Linked DNA regions of Homo sapiens: regions 2, 3, 4, 5 and 6 are each linked to region 1. The links come from fine-mapping of genetic effects on gene expression. A gene starts in region 1. Each other region holds a variant in brackets. All regions are shown on one strand. Distances are from middle to middle.

Region 1 (4,088 bases):
GAGTTACGTGCACGCTAATCTAATACATTCCTGGGCTCAATCCCAGGCCTGCTGAGTGAGACACTTTGGAAAACTGTAATTTTAACAAGCGCCTTCAGTGACTCTTACAAAAGTTTCAGAAGCACGAGCAAAGAAATATTCAAAAAGCTGTGCGGGCGGGAAGACCTGGGTCAAATCCCAGTACCACGACCTTGCTGCTGTGTGACACTGGGCAGGTTTACTTAACCTCTCTGAACCCGTTTACTCTGTTTACAAAAATATGGAGCATAACCACTGCAGTGTTGCTGGGAGGGTGAAAGGTACTCAACTACAGAGGCACGCATCCATGGCTTCATCCAAGCTATGAGTGCCTGTGTCTAAGGCATTCGTGAATGCCTACGTTTAAGAGGCAGGAGCCACTCTGACCCTCCTCTTTTAGGGGAACAATCTGCCACTAAGAGAGCATAGGGCTTCCTAGAGTCTCCCCATGCATAATGGAAGCCAGATACCGCTAATGTTCTATTCAGAAGCCCATCTCAGTCCCTGTTCCGGGGTCAAGCAAGGTGAGGCAGGAGGTAACGATGGGCTGAGCTTTGGAGGAAAGCTAAGACGACCCACCTTTCTCAGGGACAGGGCCTTGAGGTGGTCCAGGCTGCTGGACACAGCTCCAAGATGGATCTACCAAGGGGCTCTCCTGGGGTGGAGAGCATAAAGGATGAAAAGGCCGCAGGCCTCTGGACAGGTCCGCCGGAGACTCTAAAACTCAGGGAGGGAAAAAGAGCAGGAGTGGTCCATCGCAGGGTCACCCCTGGTACTGCCCGTGGCAGGGCTCACAAACACCCCACAGCCTCTTTCCCCCAGGAAGCAGGTTAAGATGAAGAAAATTAGGCAGGCAGCTACCGGGCGGTGCCTGGCTCGCGGCTCATGGCTCACAGTGGAGGATGGACACTGCTGTTATTTCCCCTGCCCTGGTACCTGGGCCGTGCCAGACATATCAGCACTTGGCGGCAGTTTCACTTTGCTGCTGTCCTGAGCCGAGCTGTTAGCAGACTGAGCTTTACTGTCCTGTGCCGGCTGTTCAGAGACCACTGTGCCTGGCCGAAGACTGAGGCAGGGACTTCAGGCCAGGGGGCCAGGCTGGCTTTTCCTGCCTTTCACTTCAGGTGGGAGCGGCTGTGGATGAGGATGTCCAGCGGCCGTCGGTTTCTAGCCTTGGGATCATTCTGGCCCCGACACGGAGTGACAGGGGATCCCCACGCGTCCCCGCATCCAGGGCGCCCCTTTAGCTGCGGCGGAGGCACAGAGAGGCCTTGGCGGCGCTGTGGCTTCGGTCGGCACCGGGTCCCGCGCAGCCGGGCCCTCCACCCTGAGTGGAGCTGCCTTCTAAGCACCCAGCCCCTGCCAATCACTGTGCCCAACACCAAGTTCCCGGGGCGCCCTGCCCTGCGCCACCGCGCGCTCGCTCGCCCGCCCGCCCAACTCACCTGCTGAAGACCAGGCAGCCCAGGTGGTTGATCTTGTGGTCGGAGCGGTGGCGGCTGTAGTCCTCCCACAGGTCCCTGAAGGCCGTGATGGCCAGGATGAAGAGCACCGGCGCCAGTGCCAGGCCGGGCTGGAAGGCGTTCACCGCCGGCACGAAGTTGAGCAGCGCGATGAAGACAAAGTACACGTTGGCCGGGCGGTGGAACTGCTCGAACAGGTTCTTGGGCAGGAAGGACAGCAGCGTGTACTTGGTAGTCTTGAGCCGGTTGTCGGCCAGGTGCTGGGCACACCCGCGCCGCCGTCGCCGCTCGCCCTTGGCCGCGCCAGCCGCAGGGTCCTCGGCGCCCGGGGGCGGCAGCAGGTTGGAGCGCACCGTGCGCGTCCTGCCCTCTCGGCGCCTCCGCCGTCCCGGAGGCCCGGGCTCCTCGGTCCCCGCCGGCTCCCGCTCCATGGCCGCGTGTCGCCGCGCCCGGCTCCTCCGCCGCTCACGCCCGCCCGCGCCGGCCTCTTAGGTTATCATCACTCGCGGCCCGGGCGCGGCGGTGCGAGCTCCCCGCCTGCGGGACGCACGGAGACCGCGGTCAGCGCGCCGCCTGGCCGGCCCAGCGCGCCCAGCCCGCGCCCAGCCCCGTCCACTCCCGTCCAGCCCCGCCGCCCGGCCGCAGTCCCCAGGGCGCAAGCTGGGCGGGTGCCGCACAGAGCCCCCTTGTCCTCGCCGCCCGCCCCCGGCCCGGGTCGTTTCCGCCGCGGTGGCCACGGCCCCGCCCTCGTTCCGCGCCCGGACTGGGCCACGCCGGATAGCGGGAAACAAAAAAAGCCCGAGCTGGAAACTTCAGAGAGGTTTAGTTTCGTTTCCCAGAAGCATCAGTTCGGTCCCAAAACGCTGCAAACGCGCGCTGCCTGCAGTAGGAGAGAGGAAACCGCGAAGCGCGAGAAAAGGCGCCCCCGTCCCCAAGCAGCCCGCGCGCCCTTCCAGGGGCCAGACCTGCTCCATCCTGGACGGCGAAACGACCTCGGGAGACCCCGGTTAGGACCTTACTCCAGGGATCAACTGGAATCAAAATCCAAAGGATCCATGGCATCCAGTGCTCCAATTTTTAAGTCTTTTTTACGCAGGACCTCTGCTCCTGGGGAGCCCTGGGAAGGGCGATTCCGCGTTGCCTCTAAGAACTTCTTTCCTACCCCACTTCCCAGCCCCCACCACTTTCAGATTCCGTTGTTGGGCGAACTAGACCGTTTCCTTTCCACCATCATCATTACTGCCTTTCCTTCCTCTCCTAAATAAATTCTTTTTCTTTTTTCTGTTCTTTCTTCATGGAAAGGAGAAATATATCGCTATAGCAAAGACAGAATTTGGTTTGCAGGTATTTGAGTGTCTGTTTCCCTCCCTGGGAAATCATGAGGACCGAAACGCTCCTTGTGCGCTGTAGCTCTGAGGTGGCTGTCATGGCCCGGACGGCGGGGGAGGCGAGGATGGTTGTGGGGAGGCGAGGATGGTTGTGGGGAGGAGAGGGGAGCGTCAGGAGGGTGTCCCAGAAGTGTGGGGCGAAGGGCTCCCCTCCACATCATGGGGCATCCGAGAAGGGGTGGGAGAATAAGCACGGCATGGAAAAAGGAGCTGGGAGTCCCCCACGTCCGCAGTGAGACCCCACAGATGTTTCATGGCTGTGACTGTTTGCCTCCCACTCAAGAAGTACAGAGATGAGAAGCAGTTATTTCTTGCCCAGGAGGCCGTGGCTGGGCGGTTGGCCGTGGCCCCAGGCTCTTCCTGGGGGTGCCTGCTAACAAGGCACTGCCCTGGATGGACTCAAATCACGTCTTCGCCAGGACCCTGGCTTGGGGAGGCCCTCCCCTCCAGCACCCTGGCTTACCCGGCTCCAGTTATGACATTCTTACATCTCTGCCCAGTTTTGCCACCATCCACAATGTTGCCCAGAACCCAGTGTTAGAAGGTAGAGTGGTGACAGGTGTGAAGAAAATAATCCCATCCCCCAGTCACAGGGGTGGGCTTTTGACATGTAGAGGCCCAGATCAGGGAAAGGTTTGGCTGAAGTCTGCATTGTTGGGGAAAGGAGTCAGGTCTCACAGTCAACCAGCAGAAACCCAAACGGAGCATCAACTGCAAATGAAGGCCCACAGCGCCTGCAGTCTTGAGGCCTCACATCCCATGGCTCCGTGTTTTCCTCTACCAGCCCACCTGGTGACCCCCGAGGCCTTCGGCCTCCCTACACTTCGGCCTCCTGTCTTCACAGGCATCCCCGTGGACCCTTCGCCCAAAGTCTCCAGGGGTGTCCGCGCCTACCAGACTCCCAGCTTCAGCCAGTCCACACTGTTGCCAAAGTAATTACCGCCTCATTCCATTTGCTTACCCTGGAGCTTCCAGGAGTACTCCTGGTGCTTACAAAGCCAAATGCTGATTCCTCAGGCAGAGGTCCCTTGAGGCCCTGAGGGGAACCAGCTTGCTGATTTTCTTCAGCCCCTCCCTGGTTCAGGCCCAGCCCCAAGGTGAGAGGTCTCCTTATCCTTCTCAGAACAGTCCTTACTCATCCCATCCACATTCCGCTCTAAGGTTCCAAGATTCTGTGAGTCACAATGCTCCTCAAGTCTGGAATCTTTTTCCACCTGCT
Region 2 (4,089 bases), 72 kb before region 1:
TAAATCTGTGTTACATTCGACTAAACCTAGAAAAATCCGGATGCTTTGTGCCTTATAGATGAAACAGGTAATGTGTTATTTTGCGGGGATGTTTGTTTTTGAGACAGGGTCTTGATCTGTCATTCAGGCTGCAGTACAGGGCTGTGATGATAGCTCACTGCAGCCTCCAACTCCCAGGGCTGAAGGGATCCTCCCTCCTCAGCCTACCAAGTAGCTGGGACGACAGGTGTGCACCACCACACCCAGCTAATTTGTTTTTTATTTTTTGTAGAGATGGGGTTTCACCATGTTGCCCAGACTGGTCTCGAACTCCTGGGCTCAAATATCCACCTGACTCAGCCTCCCAAAGTGCTGGGATTACAAGAGTGAGCCCCCATGCCTGGCCAGAATACATTTTTTAAGAAAAAAGAAGACATGTTAATGAACCTAACATGCAGACCAACTAGATTGAGGCCTCCCAAGTGAGGTCAGCCTGGGGGACTCCTTTGGCCAACTAACAGGAGAAGTGTGTAACACTTTAAACAAACAGCAAATGTGAAACCAGGACACAGTGAGGCGAGCCCTAAATGGGAGGATCACCACAAGAGATCCAAGAATCTTGTGGAATAATCATTAGTGCCAAGGCCGATGCCTTGGGAATAAGAAAACCCTTCTTGGAATTTATTTTTCATATGGTGGACCAATAAAGAAGTGTGTGTGTGTGTGTGTGTGTGTGTGACAGAGACAGAGAGAAAATAATTTTACATCACTTAAAAAAGACCAAACAAGACTCTAAAATTATCGCAGATTTCATATACACTCATTATACATCAGGCAGAGAAGTAGAAAGCCCAGAATGCCAGCAACAATAGCTTTCAAAGGTTTCTCCGCCATCAGCGCTGTTGAGATTTGGGGCTGGATATCCTTGATGGTGGACAGCTCTGGGCTCTGCACTTTGCTGAGCACCATCCCCAGCCTCCTCCTATAGATGCCAGTAGGGCTCCCTCCCTACAAGTTGTTACAACCTAAAACAGCTCCAAACATTGTCAAATGCCTCCTGGGGGTGCAAAATCGCTCCCGGTTGAGAAATGCTGCTTTAAAACACCCAGGACAAAGATTCTGGAAAATGGATTATTAAGTAAATGTTTACAGAACCAATGTATTTTTAAAATCATGAAGGTGAGAACTCAGCACTGAAACAGCAATGGCAAAATCCGCAGTGGGAACGTGAGCCAAGTATGTTGCATAACGCCCAGAATGTGTCTTCCTTCCACCATAAACTGAAACATCTGCTCCTTCAGTGAGACATGCTAATGGATTCTGAATCTAATACTAAAAGTGAGAGGCAGTGAGAAATGATAGTTGGAGTGCTTTTTCTGGAGTGAATCTTCTGATACCAAAATTGCCAAAAATACAGTAGTGTAGACTAGATGCACAAAATGTATTTTCTGAACTACTTTCTATTCTGTATGTCTCCTCGAGGTGATGTGAGCTCTAAGAAATGTCCCAGATGTGTGGAAGCACATGTGTGCATGGAGCAGACTGCTCAAATGAGTCAAGCTGAATGGAAAATACTGGTCGCTCTGTGGTAAGTCAGAAAGGGCTGAATGTTGTCCCAGCGGAACTCACCCCCAGAGGGCAGGGCCTCTGGCCTCTTTTTAGAATGAAGAAAGGATGCAGAGTCTCTCAGCCCAGAGAAAGTGACACACCATGCTATGCTCACATCACATAATTACTCACTACAATGCAACACTGAACACCCAGATTAAATCTATTTTCCCCAGGAAACACTAGTTTGCGAAAGCAAAACGATGCCTAAACACAGTATCACTTACAAACCTCTTAGTAAGTTTTAACATGAAACTTTTTTTCTGACAAATCATTTCTACTGTGGCCTTTTCTGCATATAATGGTACATTCTCAAAGTATCTTAGTAGACCTCAAGACATCTCAATAATACTGCCCACTAGTAATGGATGTAAAACACTCCGGGGCACTTCTAGAGTTTTCAAGGTAATTTCTTATGCATTAATTCATTCATTGGTATGACAATCCCAGGAAATGGGCCGGAGTTGTGCGCTCCTTATTCCTACGGAGAAGTTTTGCATTGTAAATATTTTTTCCTAAGAGGCTGTAACAATTCACACTCCTCCGTCAGTATCTAAGAGTCTCCAGGCCCTTTTTTCTGCAAAACCAGCTGCTT[C/T]GTCTTTTTAAAACCTCCCTGCAAGTGTTTTTTTTTTTTTTTTTCAAGACCCTTGCTCTGTCGCCCAGGCTGGAGTGCAGTGGCACGATCTCGACTCACTGCAACCTCCGGCTTCTGGGTTCAGCAATTCTCCTGCCTCAGCCTCCCCAGTAGCTGGGATTACAGGCGTGCCCCACCACACTTGGCTAGGGCAGGACATCTACTTTTCTTTTAATGTGCATCTCCCTGCCACCCAGACCACTTGGCAGGCTCCTCTGTGAATTAACTCTGCATGTTTCCCCTTCAATCTTTCTTTTTTTCTTCTTCTTCTGATTTATTTAGTTAGAGTCAGGGTTTCACTCTGCTGCCCGTGCTGGAGTGCAGTGGCACAATCTAGCTTACTGCAGTGGCACAATCACAGCTCACTGCAGCCTCGACCTCCTGGGCTCAAGCAATCTTCCCACCTTGGCCTCTGGAGTAGCTGGGAGTAGCTAACATGCACCACCTGCCCAACAGTTTTTTAACTTGGTTGTAGAGACGGAGTCTTGCTATGTTGCCCAGGGTGGTCTCAAACTCCTGGGCTCCAGCAATTCTCCCGCCTCAGTCTCCCAAAGCACTGTGATTACAGGTGTGAGCCACCGTGCCTGGCCTCCCTCACTTTTTCTATTGTATTCTTTCCTCTCTTCTTGACCACGAAACCTGTGAGAGCATTCATATTGAAAATATTAACCCCTTTTCTGTCTTTTGCTTTGGAAATATTTTTCTCTAAGAGCCATGGTTTGTCGGTTTTAACATTTCTAGTTGTAGCATAATTTTGTTATATAATCCTTTCAGATGTTTATATAGGTAAATATATCTGACTTCTCCAGGCCTGGCTAAGACAGTCACCTATGTCCCTGTATTATACATGTTGTTTCCAAGTATTGCTTGTTTGTTTTTTGTGGGAGGAGTGCAGAGTATTTTTTTTTTAAAACAAACATTTAAATGGTCAAACCAACTGATGTTCATTTTCCTCTGTTACGACCTGAGCATCCAATGCTGCTTCTTCCAGACAGCCAATTGTGTCAATATTGCTAACTAGTTCTTTTCCCACTGAACCTACATACCCACTCTGTTACAGATAATATCATTTGATTTGGGCTTATTAGGTTCCATTAATCTACTTGTCCTTTCTCATGTCAACCCCACATGGCATGGTAGTACAGTATGTTGGATCAGTGCCACCATTAGCTTCAGCGCTGAGAGGAGTCTTCATGCAAAGGTACCTGCTCAGGGTGGAGCCCAGAGACAGGGCCCTGGGCCAGCACACTGGGGAGGTCCTGCTCTGCTCTCTGCAAAGACAGTGGCCACCAGCCCTCCCCCTGCCCCAGCCAGTCTGAGGTCCCATAGCCACCAGGAGGGCTTAGGCGGGATGCCCCAAAGCCTCAACAAACACCCATGCAGGTCATTTGTCATAGAAAAGGGGGCCAACCCCAGACCCACGTGGGTGACAGATGTTGCATGTATTTAAATGACCCTGCAAATGCTCCCGGGGGTTAGATGGCCTACTGCAGCCTCTATGTGGATGTCCAACCCCAACCCCCCAAGCACTGGCCTGGTGAGGGTGAGGCCCGCGTTTAGAATTCAGATCTTAGAGCACGAAGCACGCACTGCACCAGGCACCTCCAGAGTGTTAATTCACCTCCAGGAGACTTGTTTGGAATGTCAATTTTGTTGCTTTGAGTTCCATCTCCCCTGCCAGGGCAGGGCTCTCATCGCTGAGACCATCTTTACCTGCACAACTTCACCTGCAGCCCCAGTTCCAATATCTGTTACAAAAAGTTGCTCCTTTTCAATCTTTTTTTTTTTTTTGAGATGGAGTTTTGCTCTCGTTCCCCAGGCTGGAGTGCAGTGGTGCGATCCTGACTCACCGCAACCTCCACCTCCCA
Region 3 (4,089 bases), 180 kb before region 1:
CATGTCTCTCAAGTAGGAAGTAGGAATAGCACCTGAAATTCCGGGCATTCTCCCCCAGTTTGAGCCCTTCTATTCCTTCCACTTTGACCAGTTTTTGCCTCTCTTGGTGGTGGGTCCCTTAGAATGTTTCTTAAGAGCGAGTCTTCACTTTTAAAATTACACGATGGATGTGTCCCAATGTTAAAAGCAAACAGCTATATACCCATGGGCAGAAATGAAAATAACCTTGATATAGATGAATAGAGTCTCTATTACCCGGGTGACCAAATGTGTATTTGACCCTGCCAAGTACCAGAGCAGCTGGCACGGGACCTGCAGGAAACACACACTGGGGAAGGAGCTCTGGCTGAGCACTTAGGGAAAGTGCTGGCTAGGCTCTTCCTGTGGGCCACTTAATTCCACAGGACAGGACACACTCCCAGCGTCTTTGTCCCACAGGTGGCCGAGGAGGCTGAGGCCTGGCCAAGGATGGGAACTCCCCTGAAGCAACAGATAACAAGCAGAGGCCCTGCTCCCCTCCCTGGCCCTTCGCCTCCTGGCACCCCGTGCATGCGGCCTGCTTCTGTGGGAACTGAACATTCTCAGAGGTGGCCAGGGGAAGTTAACTCATCAGTGAATGAATCTGGAATTAGGGATTATTGCAGGAGAAATGAGACTCCATGTTCTTTTTGCCCACATGGAATAATTCAAGGCAAAGAAAAGCACTTGCTGTCTATTTTAATGGCTGGCTAGAAACAGCTGGTCATCAGTGTGTGAATCTATGTGGTATATTAATGCCAGTATGTATTTAAATCTATTTGCTCTTTCAGTGGCTCAGTGGCTTCCTTGTGGGTTTGTCTTCTTGTTAATTCCCGTTCAAAATAAGTCACATTTTCTTCCTTGCTTTAGAAAAATCCCCCCTCTAGCTTCAGTGATCCCCTGTGACTGACTGGACTCTGGGCTTTTCTTGGGCTCCTGGAGACTCTTGGAGGGGGGACAGTTTCGCTTACAACACTTGATGCACTGCAGCCAAGCAGAGGGCAGCCCTTTTTCTCCATCCTCTAGAATGGTGAATTCTAGAATTTCAGTTTGTCCAGGGTGTCCATCTGAAGGGAGGCTGGGGGACTGGCACTTTGGAAGAGTGAACGTGGAGGGCAGAGCTCAGGAGGTGGAAGGCGGAGACTCGGGGGAGCTTTACCTCCATGTTCTGGCCACTCTTGTAGAGCTGCGGGTTGGTCAGCAGCACATTGGCTGGCACATCCCTGTCCAGCACCCCAGTCACGAGCGGGGGAAGTGACGAGAAGAGCAGATTAAAGAAGATTAGATACCACTGGTCAATCATGGTAGATGCAGAGAAGCCACAGAAAAACTGGAACCAAAACAGGAGGCCCACGAACATCTGAAATCAAGAAAGGAAGAACAGGAACAGGCGAGTCTTCAGCCATTGCTGAGGATTCTCATCCGAGGGAGCTGACAGGCCTGCAGAGTTTCACAGTCAAGATTAAATGTATTGGCAGCGATTTCTGCCAAAGACAGCCATGACCTTGAGCCCTGCTGCTGGCCTCTGCCTCTCCCTCTTCCTCTTTCCCTTCGCCCTCCTCACTCCCTTAAGAAAGAAGAACTGGCAGTGGGAATTGGGAATTCCCAGGAGCAGCACTTGCGGGGATGAGATTTTTGTGCTTGACAAGCTCTGGATCATTAACATAAAACAAAATCAAGGTTTCACAGGGGTGTAGGGCTGCTCACATTTCAAGAGGGCCAGTTGAGTATGAGCTGTGGCATCTTCCCTAGTGGCCCTCCTCTGTCTGTGACCCCAGACAAAGCCTACCTGTGGCTATATCTCTGCTCCTGTCTCTTCTTTAGTGACCTGCATACTCTCTGAGGAGGTGCAGTGGACAGTGACTGACTCCCACTGAGGGGAGGACACACAAAAGCACAATAGCAAAGCCAATGACCTCATCAACATCGCTGC[A/G]GTGACCTGATTGTCCACGGGGACCTCTGCTGGGGGGAGAGGGAGAGGCATCATCTCTGATCCTCATAGCTACAGCTACCCAGCTCAGCAGAACAGGAAAGTGAGATTCAGGGAGGTGGAACAGCCACCTCTGGCCCCTGCTCACTGGGGTGGGAGCAAGGTCAGATCTCTTCTCACTATTGCTAGATTCCTGAATATCAGCAGCCTGAGTGCATTTATACGGTGGACATGACAGTTTAGTGATTGCAAAGCATTCTAACACTCATGAGCTATGTAGCTGGGCACAGAGCATGAACTCCTCAGTCTCGCTTTCCTTGCTCATGACATGGGCATACCAATGATACTCAGCCAATGCAGCTGCTGTGAGCGTGAAGCGACCCAGTACATTTAGAGGACTCACCAGAGTCCCTGGAGAGCTATAGGTGATCGCCTACGGTGTATGGTGGTGAGTGGTATCGTTAGTTCCCTTGTTTGGGACTCAGGCAGGGCGAGTGCTCTTATCCCACATACAGAGAGGGAACTTGAAGTTCCAAGACATCAAATGACTTGGCTGAGGTCACGGTGTGAGTAAGGAACCCAACTTGTTCAACTGCGATGGGTCTTGGCTTGGAGGGCAGGCACAGTCCCAGCAGGGAACTCTGACGCTAGACAGACATTTTCTGCTGGGCACCGCAAGGCCTGGGCTTGGTTCTGGAGCTGCAACTATCTACCCTTTTGACCCTGACTCAGTCACTTCACCTCCCTGAGCTTTTGGCTTCTTGACCTGAAAGTGACTTGTGAAGATCATAAGAAATAATAGCTTATGTTGAAATAACCCACCATGCCACACAGCCTCCAAGTCCTGTGTCAGACTATGATTTAAATGTCTTAATATGCAGCCTTTCCCTACATGCTGAAAACGAACATTTGGTTTTTATTCATTGACTTTCTTCCCTTCCTCACTCCTACGGCTGGCTCTCGCTCACTCACCCCCGCAGGCTTGGCCTAGTGAGTCATCGGTAGCAAATACAGTCAAGAGAAAGAGAAGATAAGTACTCAGATAATTGAGATTTTTTTTCCTATAGTACCAAAAAGCTTTCTTCCCAAACCACTGTTGTTATGGAAACCTTTCTTCTCTGCTTTTTATTGGAAAGAAAGGCCACCTTATTCCTAAAACTAATGAATTTCTCATTTCAGGAGGCAGAGTGATTATCCTTGAACTCCTCATGTAGATTAATGCTTGTTAACAAAGGCCTGGCATTTTTATGGAATAAAAACAGGCGTCCTCTTCTCCTTTCTGCACCCTTCAATGGGGAGGGACTCATCGCAGCAGGCAGGAGGCTGTGCCCGTTCCAGGTGACCACTAGGGCCTTTGTTTGCATCTGAAGTGTTTAATGATTTGGCCTACATCATTCTTGCCCTCCCTTCGATCTGAGACATTTTAACTGGGAATTAGGGATCAGCTGGCTCAACTCACAGGCTTTGCTTTGTTTTTTTAAGATTTAAAAGAAGACTGGACATGGTGGTTCATGCCTATAATACCACACTTTGGGAGGCAGAGATGGGACGATAGCTTGAGGCCAGGAGTTTGACACCAGCCTGGGCAACATAGCGACACCCTGTCTCTACAAAATAGAAAAAATTAGCTGGGCATGGTGGCCTGTAGTCCCAGCTACTCAGGAGGCTGAGGTAGGGGGATTGCTTGAGCCTAGGAGTTTGAGGATACAGTAAGCTAGAGTGGCGCCACTGCACTCCAACCTGGGCAACAGAATCAGACCCTGTCTTTAAAAAAAAAAAAAAAAAAATCCAAAGCAGGAATTAACTTGCTCAAGAACCCACAGCTAACAAGTGATAGAAAGGGGGCTTGGATTCTTCCCTGCCCACCCCCATTCATCCCTCCACTCCTTCGGGAGCTGAGAACCTTTAGGCTTACAACTGTGCACTTGAGGCCTCAAAGTTCTGGGGATTTAATGCCAGGGCTGGGAGAAAGGAGGTATGAGCCGGCAAGCCCAGGAGTGGTGTGACACAGCCTTCCTCAGATAGTCCCAGGCACAGCCTAATCTGAATTAATGTCTGGGACCAAACCTATCAAGTTAAACATGCCCTGACTGGATCTGAGCAGCTGTATGCATTTGCTAGAAGACGCTCCGAAAAATGAA
Region 4 (4,089 bases), 67 kb before region 1:
AATATCTCCAAAAAATATCACAATATTTCTCCATAACATATTTACTGCAAATATCCCTAAATTGTAATGGGCTACAGAGTATGATCAGTAAAGTACCTTAAGCAAACAAACACTGCCCCGTCTTGGAAGATCCAGCCCTGGGAATAGAGGGGACTTTAACACATGGATCAAAATATACCATGGAGACATGATTTCCCTGGGCACAGTGTGCAGTGACCTAAGACACCTTTGTGAATCCCGGCTTGGAAGCCGACGTCAATTTTCCCAGTCAAGCATCAACAGCAGCAGTGCCCTCGCGAAACTGACTTTACCCGGTAATATTCCGAGAATGGATAACAAGGCTGAAACGCAGAACTAACTACAAACTGAGTTTTCCTCCTTGGGTAAAATACAGTGAGAAGGGCCATGCAGATGGTCATCTTCTCTGGAGGCCACACACGTGGATTCCACAAAGGCCATTGCAGGGTCATTGTCACCAGTCAGTCTTGGCAGTGTCCCTGGAAGGTGTGCCATTCCCATTATCAGGATGAAGAGGGGGTTGAGTCAACGTCCAAAGACTCACAGCTGGAGGTCGGAACAGCAGCTCTAAGGAAGGCCCAAAACTCAACTGGCTCATACCTCCCAATTTTAGAGTATTTGGGAGATAGGAAGTGCTGAGAAATGGGCATTGCTAAATCACAGTGGTTCTCTCCTATCTTTATTTAGGAAAAACAATTGTTTTTTCTTTGGGAAAATTGTGTAGGTTACAACTGGCTATATCCCAGGTATCTTATGTGACCGCGCAAGCATACAACAATGAGCAGCGCCCCCTTCTGAGGGACTGAATCAGCCAGGGCATCCCCACCTTCTCAGCCACACAGCCCACAGCCACACAGCCCAGCCCACAGGACACCACCGTCCACGTGACTAAGACACAGGCCCACGGAGGGAGGGCCTGCGCCAACTTGGCACCTCCAGTCCGATGTTTAACATCTAATGAATGGCGACCTTGGGCTTTCCCTGCCACCTGCTGAGAAGAGAGAGTGACAGCCTCTTCCCTACACTCTGCCCAATGATTTGAGATTGAATACCTTTCCTATTGTAAATAGGAACAAGAACTGTTTTAACATTTTTGGATTTCTGATGAAGGGAATAACAACCTAATGCCACAGAATGAGCTCTGATTTTGGTTTTAGTCATATGTTATGACACTTATGCTTACTAGTAGGGGTACTTGCTTTCCCAAAGTGTGCCAGACAGGTACTAGCACTAAGACATCTGTCTGGAAGTATTTCTTTAGATATCATTTTATTCCTTCACTCTGCAGTCCTGTGTAATAATACACACTGGGAAAATTTTGACATGTGCTATAGTGTGGATGTTTGTCCCCTCCAGACCTCTGCTGAAGACCGATCCCCAGCGTTAGAGGTGGGGCCTCATGGGAGGTGTCTGGGTCGTGGGGGTGGATCCCACATGGATAGATGATTGCCCTGGGGGTGTAGGGGATGTGCGAGAGTTCTGGCTCTATTAGTTCCTGTGAGAGCTGGTTGTTAAAAAGAGCCTGGCACCCCCCTCCTCACCCCTGTGATTCTGCTCGCCTCTCCCTTCCCCTATGAGAGGAAGCAGCTGAGGCTCTCACCAGATGCAGATGCTGGTGCCA[T/C]GCTTCCTGTACAGCCTGCAGAACCGTGAGCCAAATAAATCTCTTTTCTTTGTAAATTATCCAGCCTCAAATATTCCTTTATAGCAACACAAAACGAACAGGGACAACATGTGAAAATAGTTTGTTTCAGGGCTAGGCGTGGTGGTTCACATCTGTAATCCCAGCACTTTGGGAGGCCACGGTGGGAGGAGTTCGAGACTAGCCTGAGCTCTATAAAAAACAGAAACAAAATTAGCCAGGTGTGGTGGTGTACCCCTGTGGTCCCAGCTACTTGGGAGGCTGAGGCAGGAGGATTGCTTCAGCCCAGGAGGTTGAGGCTGCAGTGAGCCACAATAGCACCACTACACTTCAGCCTGAACAAAAGAGCGAGACCCTGTCTCAAAAAAAAAGTAGTTTGTTTCAGAGCTTATAAATATGAGTGTGGCACTGGCCTCTTTAATGCACACTGCCATGGTCTAATTATGGCCTGTGTGCATGCATGCAGCAATGCCCGAGCAGCTGGAGTTGGAAAAGAAGCCTCCGTTCATGCACAAACGTGGTACTCATGAGTCATCGGGGAGCTGCTAGCCCACCTCACAACGTGGCTTCTTCCCACCCACACTGGGGGACCTTCTCCCATAGTCATGGACCCTCCACAGGTGAGGCAGACATCGTCAGAGCCACATGTGTCCTGGGCAGGTGCTACCTGCCTGGAACCTGCCGGATATCCCTCTGGGATGGGTCAACTAGGCCACAGGACAATGTGACACTTGACAGAAGGTGGTGACAGCCGTAATTTGAGCTGGCCTTGTAGAGGCCTTCCTCCTTCCGTAGCTTTGGAGATGTTTAAAAAATTTAAATTTTAATTGCCAAATAATAATTGTATATAGTATGAGGCACAATGTCATGTTTTGATACATGTATACACTGTGGTATGGTTAAATCAAACCATTAACATCTCACATACCGATCTTTTTTTCTGATGAGAACATTTAAAATCTACTTGTTAGCAATTTTGAAATACACATTGCTATTAACTATGGTCACTGTGCTGTACAACAGATCCTAAAACGACTCCTCCTGTCTAAGGGAAACTTTGTATCCTTTGACCAAAATCCCCCCAAGTCCCTTCCAACCTCTGGTAACCCCCATTCTACTCTGCTTCTATGAATTCAACATTTTTAGGTTCCACGCGTACGGGAGATCATGCAGTGTTTGTCTCTGTGTGGCTGGCTTATTTCACTGAACATAATGTTCTCCAGGTTCATCTGTGCTGTTGCAAGTTCTAGTAAGTTGGAAATGTAATTTTTTCAGAAAAGAATTCACAAAGTACATGTCTTTGTGAATAAGGACTCCTCAGTGGCTTGAGGACAGGCTAGCCCCCTCAGAGAGAGTCCCCTGAGGCCAGTGCCATGGTGGCTGCCCTGGCCCCTGGCCCCTGCCCCCACCCCACCCTTTCAGAGGTTCTGTGCTCCCTTGAACTCAATTCTTCCTGACTTTCTGCCACACTTTTCCATTTTGTGCTAGGTTTTCTCTTAGAAATTACAGACTCTCTACATACGGAGACATGACACGCTCTGGGCTCCAGGTGCCAGTGCTGCAGGTCTGGAGGGGGCTCAGTGGATCCTTGGGCCCCTCCTCGGGGGACAGCCATCCAAGAAGGGCAGCCCAGCTCCACAGCACGCAGATCCTTCTCTGTCACCAAGGTCAGAGCTGGGACTCCTCTGGCTGCCACTCTTTTGGGGCAGGCACATCACCAGGAGACTGCCGCCCTGGGGGGTGAGGGTGGGGAGAGAGACCTTCAGCTCTGCCTTTACCCTCCACGTGCCAGCACAGCCATGCTACCCGATCTCACCCTGGGCTGGCTCCTCGTCTATGTCATATCCTCCAGGGACATCTACAGGGATTAAACTGAAAGTGTGTTACCCAGAGAGCACAATAAGAAGTTGTCCAAGGAGAGAGTTAAATGTAAGACTTCTGTGTTGTTATAGACTTCATTTTAAGCTTCTTAAAAATATAACCCTTGCAAAATTCGTCAGGGTCACAAATCTGGAATCCGGCCTAGTTAACTGGAAGAGGGAGGGAGGCCCTGGGTTGCATTCAGCCAGCTACTCCCATCACTGGAGTTAAGGAGCTCCTCAGCTTCACTGACATAGGCAGTCTCAGCAATGAGAGCCCTGCCCTGGCAGGTGAGATGGACCCCAAAGCAACAATATCAAAACTCCAAACAAGTCTCCTGGAGGCGAATCAACACTCTGGAGGCACCTGGTGCAGTGTGCGCTTCATGCTATAAGGTCTGAATTCTACATACAGGCCGCACCTTCCCCAAGCCAGTGCTGGGAGGCGTGGGGGAAACCAGTGCCTGTCCAGCCCTCCCCCTGCCCCAGGCAGTCTGAAGTCCCATAGCCACCAGGAGGGCTCAGGCGGGAATCCTAAAGCCTCAGCAGACACCCACGCAAGTCCATTTGTCA
Region 5 (4,089 bases), 46 kb after region 1:
AACTGTATACCTTTTTGCACATTGCAAAGATGGCTGTTGACATGTTTCACCCCAAGTTTAAATATCTGAAAAGAATGTAATTTTGGTATATCGGAAACATTGACCTTTAACTATATATATATTTATATACACACAATATATATACATATAGAATACGTTAATACAGTATATGTTTTATATATATATACACAGACACACAGATTATGTGTTACCACAATATGTGATATATGTATATAGCTATATATGTATATATAACATATACTGTATGAATTGTGTGTGTATATATAACGTATATGTTATGACGATATTCAATACTTTAGGTGTGTTTGGAGTTATATGCCCCAAATTATGTAATAATCCATCATTACAAATTATTTTCAATCTGACTACTTGATTCAATTTTGTTAAAAGTGAAAACTGGAAACAATATTACTGTCTGTGTGTGTATGTGTATGTGTGTGTATATATATATAAAACACATATATTAATATATGTTCTACATACATAGTAAATGTATATGCCCTAAATGTATACAATATAATATAAGTGCTCTAGTAATATGAAATACACTATCATCCTTAAAAAAAGTACACAAACAAAACCTTTGACAACTGTAAATTGTTTTTCCTTCTATGTTTATTTTTTCTACTTTTCCACACAATTTTATTGTAATATTGATTTTTTCTTGATGTCTTTTATTGATTATTCTGTCATACCTCTCTGTCACATAATATATATATAAACTGATCAAAACAACAAATGCATTAAAATCATTATTAAAATTATTAAAATTGTTTTGGGAATGCATCACTTAATGAAACAGATGAGAATTCTTTCCCAATTAATTCATGTATCCATGGATGAACATTGCTTGCTGTTAGAAGGCGGTACAGTTCTGCATCACATCCATCCCATGTTAGCTTTTATAGATGTTGCACTGAAAAGTCAAACCATCTGTCACATCTTAGTCAATTTCTGTTAAAAAAAATAGACAATTTTTATACATAAATAAATGTTAACATGCAATTTGAGGAATATTACAAAAAACATTGAGAAATAAATTATCGAATCTGTCTTTTAAGAGTGCCAATAGCAAGATTAAAACAATAGCGATGAGATATAATTCCATTATGTATACTATTGAATTGTAAAAACAAGATAACAATGCTGGTCAGCAACACTTAATTTCTAACAATAAAATGTTACACGTAACTAGACTGAGGTACATGGGTGGAAAGCATAGAAGAAGCCATGATATCACTTCAGTAAATGTGTAGGCAAGCATGCACTGGATTCCAGGGTTTGGCTTGAAGGATAATTAGAGTTTTTTTTTTAATGTCAAAAAAAAAAATTCATTTTAAAAAGATAATTGACCAAAATTGTCCTTGGTCTAACCCCTGGGGTATACTTTTTATTTTGTATTAACAAAAGGCAGAGCATAATGAACATTTTCTCTGATCAAATAAAAGTGAGGATTTATGCAATTGGAATATTTTACAACCTTATTTGACCACATGAGTTTGATTTCCTTATTGAATGATACATGAAATCTGAAGGAAAGCTCACCAAATATTAATGTGCAGGTCTTGTATATCTCGATGGTCCTGAGAAAACATTCCATTCACAACGAAAAGAATCTGCACCATTAACCTACACTGCTCCTGCTTTTTGGAGAGATTTTTCCTTCTAGCTAATGATATCTCTACTAATGAAGTAGGAAAGAACAAAAGGTATTTTTAGAATTCCACACTTTTTTTGCTGTGCTCTGGTAAGACCTTCTCTCGGGATCTGTGAGTCCTTTGAGAGTAATTTGTGGGGAGTGGAGGTGGGTTGGAAGGGGTGAGG[T/A]CACTCTTGCAGCTGCACTGTAGCAATGCTGAATTCCGGCGGTTCCACGCCCGGGCTTATAGGGACAGCACAGTATTCAGGGCCAGAAGGCGGAGGCCTTGGCAGGAGCAAGGTGTTTCATCAGCTACCGTGGGGTTCTATTCAGAAGGGTCTCTTGGTACGGTTGTCTTTTACACTCTTTTCTGAGACTGGGGATGGGCCAGGCACAAGCCCTGCTTTTGTCACATGGAGAGGCATTGTGGAAGGTGATTTCGTGTGAACCAGCTGCGGGGGTCGGGCAGGGAGATGAAGAACTTAGAGAATTGACACCTCACAATGGCCTGCACCCACACCCTTCTCAGAAGGCACTGCCTCTTCGCTTGAGGGGTAGCTTGAAGGCCCCTGAAAGCAGGGAACGAGGCGCGGCTGTGCGCGCGCGGCAGGTGCACAGGACCCACCTCGCCGGGACCCACCTCGCCGCAGCCCCTGCGCGGCCTTTCCCTGCGCGCTGGTTAGGAGGCTCCTTCTCCTGGCCCACCCCAGACCTACTGAATCCCAGGCTCTGTGGGGAGGCCCAGCCATTTGTCTTAGGAAGCAGGCCAGGTGATTCTGATACACAGGAAAGTCTGAAAACCTCTGTCTCCTGTCAGAGCGCGGTGGCTCACGCCTGGACTCTAAGCACTTTAGGAGGCCAAAGCGGGAGGAGCGCTTGGGCCCAGGAGTTCGAGACCAGGCTGGGCAAAATGGTGAGACCAAGACCCCGTCTCTACAAAAAACTACAAAACAGAAGAAAAACAAAACAAAAAGCATGAAAACCTCCGTCTCCTTTCCCAGCAGGGACCAGCCCTCCCACTCCGCTGATGATGGGGGTACTGGGGAGCGCAGCGGTGCGCAGGCACCTGGGGTTCCGTGCCTCTCCTCACCCGCCGAGCCCCGCAGCAGTCCCGCTGCCTCTGCTCTGCAGCACCCTGACTTGCGGTGCTCCCCACCCACCGCCGTGCTTGTCAGCTCCAACTCCGTGCTGGACCTTGGCTGGCTCTGAGCAGGTTTCTCCATTGGTGGAGAATTTGAATATGTTTCATTCAAGAAATCCCAGCAAAACACAAGGGTAATGCTGAATATTTTAAATATCGGTGGATAAAAAGTGAATGAAACACACACACAAAAGTAATACAATCTCTTAATAAATATGAAGAGATTCTATCTTTCAAATATAGAAATGGAAATGAGAAAAATAGCATTTTGCCTACTGTCAAGGACTGAAGGAAAAAAGGAGATAATAGTCAGTCTCTACTAAAAATACAGCTGGGCCTGGTGGTTGCACGCTTGTAGTACCAGCTACTCTGAAGGCTGAGGCAGAAGAACTGCTTGAACCTGGGAGGTGGAGCTTGCAGTGAGCCGAGATCGCGCCACTGCACTCCAGCCTGGGCGACAGAGCGAGACTCAGACTCAAAAAAACAAAAAAACAAAAAAAGTTTGCAGGAAGGATAAAACAGTAGCTTTCCGTCCTGTTGGTGTGACTGTAATCATTAAAGGATCACATTCTTGAGAGCAATTTGGCAAAACGGATCAAGAATCATTCAAATGCTTACCCTTTAAAGTCATATTTTACTTCTAAGCATTTTGCCTACAAAAATAATGCACATTAAAATTTCTCTACAAGGATATTAAGTTTAGGATAATTTTTATGATAAAAATTGCCCGTAGCATAAGTATTAATGAAAGGAGAATAGTTAAATTTATTAAGGTAAATTCATCGGGTGGACATTATACACCATTTCCAATCTGTTCAAGGAAAGTTTAATGACGCGGCAGAAATACGTTATATGCACAGAGTGGGATCTAAAACCTGAATCACAACATGCATTTCACTTAGAGACGAAAGAGATTGAGATCTTGATTTTGTTCTGTTTGACTTGCACTCATTCTCCCAATCTGTCTTTCACATGCTGATTGAGCACTTTATACATCAACTGATCAGCATTTTGAGGAATCTTACCAGGAAACTGCTTGCTGGCCAAAGTTTTAATTTTGGCACCTGCATCATTGCTGTGCTTGGGCAATTGTCTGAATATTTCTATTACATCTTGTCATTATTTTATAAAAGGGAGAGGGGAATGGAACTATGAAAGTGCTGTGGCAAGATTTGTCATTCTCACAAAGGCAGTGACAATATGAAGTTGGACATCTGAAGTGGGCTGTCAGCTGCAGTCATACCTGTGAGCTCAATTGTTGAGAAAAGATTCAGAATTAGTGATGATGTCC
Region 6 (4,089 bases), 20 kb after region 1:
CATAAGCCTCCAAGAAGCTCAGAAAACTGCAGGCAGGATAAATAAAACAAAAATACAACTAGGCCCAATAGAGTCAAACAGCTGAAAATCAAAGATGAGGAGAAAATCTTTAAAATAGCCAGATAAAACCAGACATGTTACATAGAGAGAAATTATATATAAATTCAGCTACTTCTCATCAAAACCCATCAACCTATAATTCTATATCGAGGAAGAAATATCTGTCAAAAATAAGGACAGTGTGAAATAAGGACAGTTTAAGATAAACAAAAGCTGAGAGAATTCACTACCAGCTGACCTGAGTTAGAGGAGAAGCTAAAAGTTCTTCAGGTGAAAAGAAGTGGAGAAGACTGGATATTGTAAATATAAACCAAAAAAGATACTGTATTATATTTAATTTCTGAATGTCTTTGAAAAGCAAGCAATTGTTTAAACAAAAAATTATACCAATCTATTGTGAGGTTTCTAACTTATGCAAATTTAAAATATATGACACTGATAGCAAAAAAGTGGAGGTTAAATGAAATCGCACTCTCACTGCAACACTACAACATATAGTTATTAAAACAACAACAAGTCAACATAGTGGACTTCTAATACATTCAACAAATTAGATGTTATAGGATATTTCTTTGAAAAACAGTTTACCAAAACCAGTGCAAGATGAAGGTAAAATTTGAATAGCTCTATATCAGTTAAAGATATTAAATTCAAAATCTAAGTCCTAGGCCAGGTGCAGTAAGTAGCTCATGCCTGTAATCCCAGCACTCTGGGAGGCCTAGGCTGGAGGATCACTTGAGCCCAGGATTTCAAGATTAGCCTGGGAAACATAGTGAGATCTCATCTCTCTTAAAAATAAATTTAAAAAATTAGCCAGGCATGGTGGTGAACACTTTTAGTCCCAGCTTCCTGGGAGACTGAGGCAGGAGGACTGCTTGAGCCTGGGAGGTCGAGGTTGCAGTGAATCATGATTGTGTCACTGCACTCCAGCCTGGGCAACAGACCAAATGTCCATCTCAAATTTAAAATGAATAAAAATAGAAATAAAAACAAAATCAAAGTCCTTCCCATAAAGGAAACTCCAGGCCCAGGTGGTACAATTACACACAGATTAGAATGGCTCAAGTGAAAAGGAATAATACCACCAAATATTGGCAAAGAATGTGAAGCAGCTGGAACTCTCAGGCATTGCAGGTGGAAGTGTAAAGCAGGTACTGAGGCGGGAGGTGGGACTTGACTCCAGAGGTGGGGCTCAGACTCCAGACCAGATTGAAGACTAGCTGAAACAGGGAAGAGGCAAAAGCACCTCTCCATAAGACATGCCCACCAGTGCCATGTCAGTTTACCATTGCCATGGCAACACCAGAAGTTACCACCCCTTTCCATGACAATGACCTGACAACCCAGAAGTTACCATCTTTTTTCTAGAAATTTCTGTATAATCCACCCCTTGATTTGCCTGTGATTAAAAGTGGGTATGAAATGACTGCGGAACCCCCCTGAGCTGCTACTCTGGGCACACTGCCTGTGGTTAGCCCCGCTTCACAAGGAGCAGTACCCCCTGCTACTGCTGTGCACTGTGCTGCCATCAAAGTTGCTGTTTAACACCACCGGTTCACCCTTGAATTCTTTCCTGGGTGAAGCCAAGAGCCCTCCCAGGCTAAGCCCCAATTTGGGGGCTCGCCTGTCCAGCATCAGCACAACCACTATGGAACTATGTGTGGTAGTTTCTGTTTTAATGAAATATGTTTATCTGTGATCAGCAATTCTAGTCCTAGTCATGTACTCTAGATAAATGAAAATATATGTACATAAAATGGTTGTTCATTGCAGCTTTATTCAAAATAGCCAAAAACTAGAAACCACTGCAATGTCTATCGACAAGTGAATGGATAAACAAAATGTGTTATTTCCATATGATGGACTGTTATTCAATAATATCAAGGATACATTCAAGAACATAGATGAATCACAGTACATTATGCTGAGTGAAAGAAGCCAGAGATGAAAGACTCCCTAATGTTTGATTCTATGTAGATGAAGTCCATGGATAGGCAAAACTAATGTAGCTTGGAAAACAGTCTAAACAATGGTTGCCTCTGGCATTGAGGGGTGGAAAATGATTGGAAAGGGTCTTAAGGGAACTTTGTGAGGTTTTGTAATATTCTATTAACTGAACAGAATGCCAGTTGCCTGGGTTTTTGCATTTCTTTTTACTTTTGTTGTTACCTTTAAGAAGGAAAGGTGTCAGTGGCTGGGGAAAGCATAAGGGATCTTCTGGAGTGTTGGCAATGCTCTACTTCTTGGCATGACTGTATTTACTTTGTGGTAATCCTTTAACTGTACATTATGATGTGTGCACTTCCCGGAATGTGCAGTATGCTTTTATAATAAGTCAAAAATTAGAAGCCCTTTGGATGACTTACTGTC[G/C]ATATATGCTATCCTCCCACAGTCTAGTTACGCGTGGCATCTGCATAGTCAGGCTCAGACATTCTTTAGCCACCCCTGAAGCTTGACTTCCATGCTTGAGCAAATACTTCCTAATCCTGAGAGCTGTCAGGGTTCACTTGAATTCTCTGGTGCGGTAGGAATCATTGTGCCTTTCCCAGAAGGAAACTGATCTAATTGGCTTAATGAAGCCAAGAACCTCTTATTCAACTCTCTTTTCCTTATAACAACATGGTATTATTTCTTTTAATTATGGACTATCACATGGAAATTGCTGACTTATTCTAGCTCCATTAAGTGGACACACTAAGATGAACCAAAATACTTACAAAAAGCACGCAAACACCCGCTGCCTGCCTCTGCTCCCTGCACTCAGTCTCTGTGGTCCCTTGCACCTCACCTTCCCAGTTTGGCTCTGCTTCTTGGTTCAGCTTTAACAGCCTGCTTAGTGCATGCCTCTGTAGCTCCTAGGTCCTGATCTGAGAGAGGGTGCATCTGGCCAAGTGCTTTCAGAGGGAGCATGAGGAGCCTGCCCTGACCTCTCTTGGCCCCTTATTGGGAGACGCCCTTTGGCTGTGATGCATAACCTTACTTTAATGTGGTTGCTGTACACAGCATATTGGATTCCGCCTCATAATAATCTGCAGATCTGTGAGTCTGAGCAATCGATGCCTGTCTAACTGCCACTGTCACTGCATTAGGCTGTCAACTTTCTCAAAGACCTTTCCTAATGCACTGACATCCAAGTCAGTCCCTTTTTATTTCATTTTGTTATTATTTTTTAGAGACAGGGTCTCTCTCTCACCCCAGCTGGAGTGCAGTGGCATGACCATAGCTCACTGAAGCCTCAAACTCCTGGGCTCAAGCAATACTTCTGCCTCGCCTCCTGAGTAGCTGGGACTACAAGCACATACCGCCATGCTGAACTAATTTTTAAGTTTTTTTTTTTTTGTAGAGACAGGGTCTTATTATGTTGTCCAGGCTGGTCTCAAACTCCTGGTCTCAAGCAATTCTCCTGTCTCAGCCTCCCAAAGCGCTGAGATTAGTGGTATGTACCTTTTTGACACTACTCCAGTTGTGTTTGGCAGCTTCCTTCTTCCTGACTTACTTATCTTCAGAGCCCTCATCACCACCTGGTGTTACAGTCTATGTGTTGATATCATTTTCTACATCGCCCCCAGCCTATTTGAATATAAAGTCCATGAGAGGGAAAGGATAGAAATTGTGTTTACTTTGTCCTCTCCTGTAGCTCCAGTACCTGCAACAATGACTGGCGCATAGTAGATTGTCCATAAATATTTGAAAAATGAAAAAATGAGACAATTGGGAAAAGAGAATGAGAAGCTGATAAACATTTGTTGTGCACACACCATAATAATAATAACAATAATAATAATAGTAATAATACAGATGCTCCTCGGCTTATGACGGGATTACGTCACAATGAACCAGTGGTCAATGGAAAATATCTTAAGTAGAAAGTGCATGTGATATACCTGACTTGCTGAATATCCTAGCTCAGCCTAACCCACCTCACCCATGCTCAGAGTGCCTGCAGTTGCCTGCAGTTGGGCAAAGTCATCTCACACAAAGCTTATTTTATAATAAAGTGTTGAATATCTCAGATAGTTTATTGAATAC

Which allele goes with the higher level. Positions count from the first base shown, and alleles are read on the strand shown. Sizes are in standard deviations (SD) of each study's normalised expression. Not every link is listed here.
With allele G in place of A in region 3, the expression in testis of the gene that starts at base 2,143 in region 1 is higher (small effect, 0.37 SD a copy in GTEx).

What was found. PIP is the estimated chance that this variant, and not a neighbour inherited with it, causes the effect.
Region 2: its variant is fine-mapped to the expression of ATP10A in iPS cells (iPSCORE, PIP 0.95).
Region 3: its variant is fine-mapped to the expression of ATP10A in testis (GTEx, PIP 0.99).
Region 4: its variant is fine-mapped to the expression of ATP10A in whole blood (TOPMed, PIP above 0.99).
Region 5: its variant is fine-mapped to the expression of ATP10A in tibial nerve (GTEx, PIP 0.96).
Region 6: its variant is fine-mapped to the expression of ATP10A in lung (TOPMed, PIP above 0.99). The same link has a PIP of 0.9 or more in fibroblasts.

The regions. Positions count from the first base shown.
Region 1 is chr15:25,861,185-25,865,272 of GRCh38, forward strand. It overlaps ATP10A (ATPase phospholipid transporting 10A (putative)), which reads right to left and starts at 2,143. Exons shown (of 21, transcript NM_024490.4): 1 at 1,464-2,143. The coding sequence starts at 1,912. It overlaps ATP10A-DT (ATP10A divergent transcript), which reads left to right and starts at 4,086. Exons shown (of 2, transcript NR_183988.1): 1 at 4,086-4,088.
Region 2 is chr15:25,788,876-25,792,964 of GRCh38, forward strand. All of the region lies in intron 1 of ATP10A (ATPase phospholipid transporting 10A (putative)), which reads right to left. Among named protein-coding and RNA genes, the nearest start is that of MIR4715, 58 kb to the right of the region's middle. RefSeq lists an enhancer at 1,422-1,521. The variant C/T (reference allele first, on the strand shown) is at 2,183.
Region 3 is chr15:25,682,109-25,686,197 of GRCh38, forward strand. It overlaps ATP10A (ATPase phospholipid transporting 10A (putative)), which reads right to left. Exons shown (of 21, transcript NM_024490.4): 17 at 1,178-1,378. Among named protein-coding and RNA genes, the nearest start is that of LINC02250, 110 kb to the left of the region's middle. The variant A/G (reference allele first, on the strand shown) is at 1,952.
Region 4 is chr15:25,794,386-25,798,474 of GRCh38, forward strand. The region is part of intron 1 of ATP10A (ATPase phospholipid transporting 10A (putative)); the gene reads right to left. Among named protein-coding and RNA genes, the nearest start is that of MIR4715, 52 kb to the right of the region's middle. The variant T/C (reference allele first, on the strand shown) is at 1,640.
Region 5 is chr15:25,907,244-25,911,332 of GRCh38, forward strand. All of the region lies in intron 1 of LINC02346 (long intergenic non-protein coding RNA 2346), which reads left to right. Among named protein-coding and RNA genes, the nearest start is that of LINC02346, 6.9 kb to the left of the region's middle. The variant T/A (reference allele first, on the strand shown) is at 1,846.
Region 6 is chr15:25,881,641-25,885,729 of GRCh38, forward strand. No RefSeq gene overlaps it. Among named protein-coding and RNA genes, the nearest start is that of ATP10A-DT, 18 kb to the left of the region's middle. The variant G/C (reference allele first, on the strand shown) is at 2,431.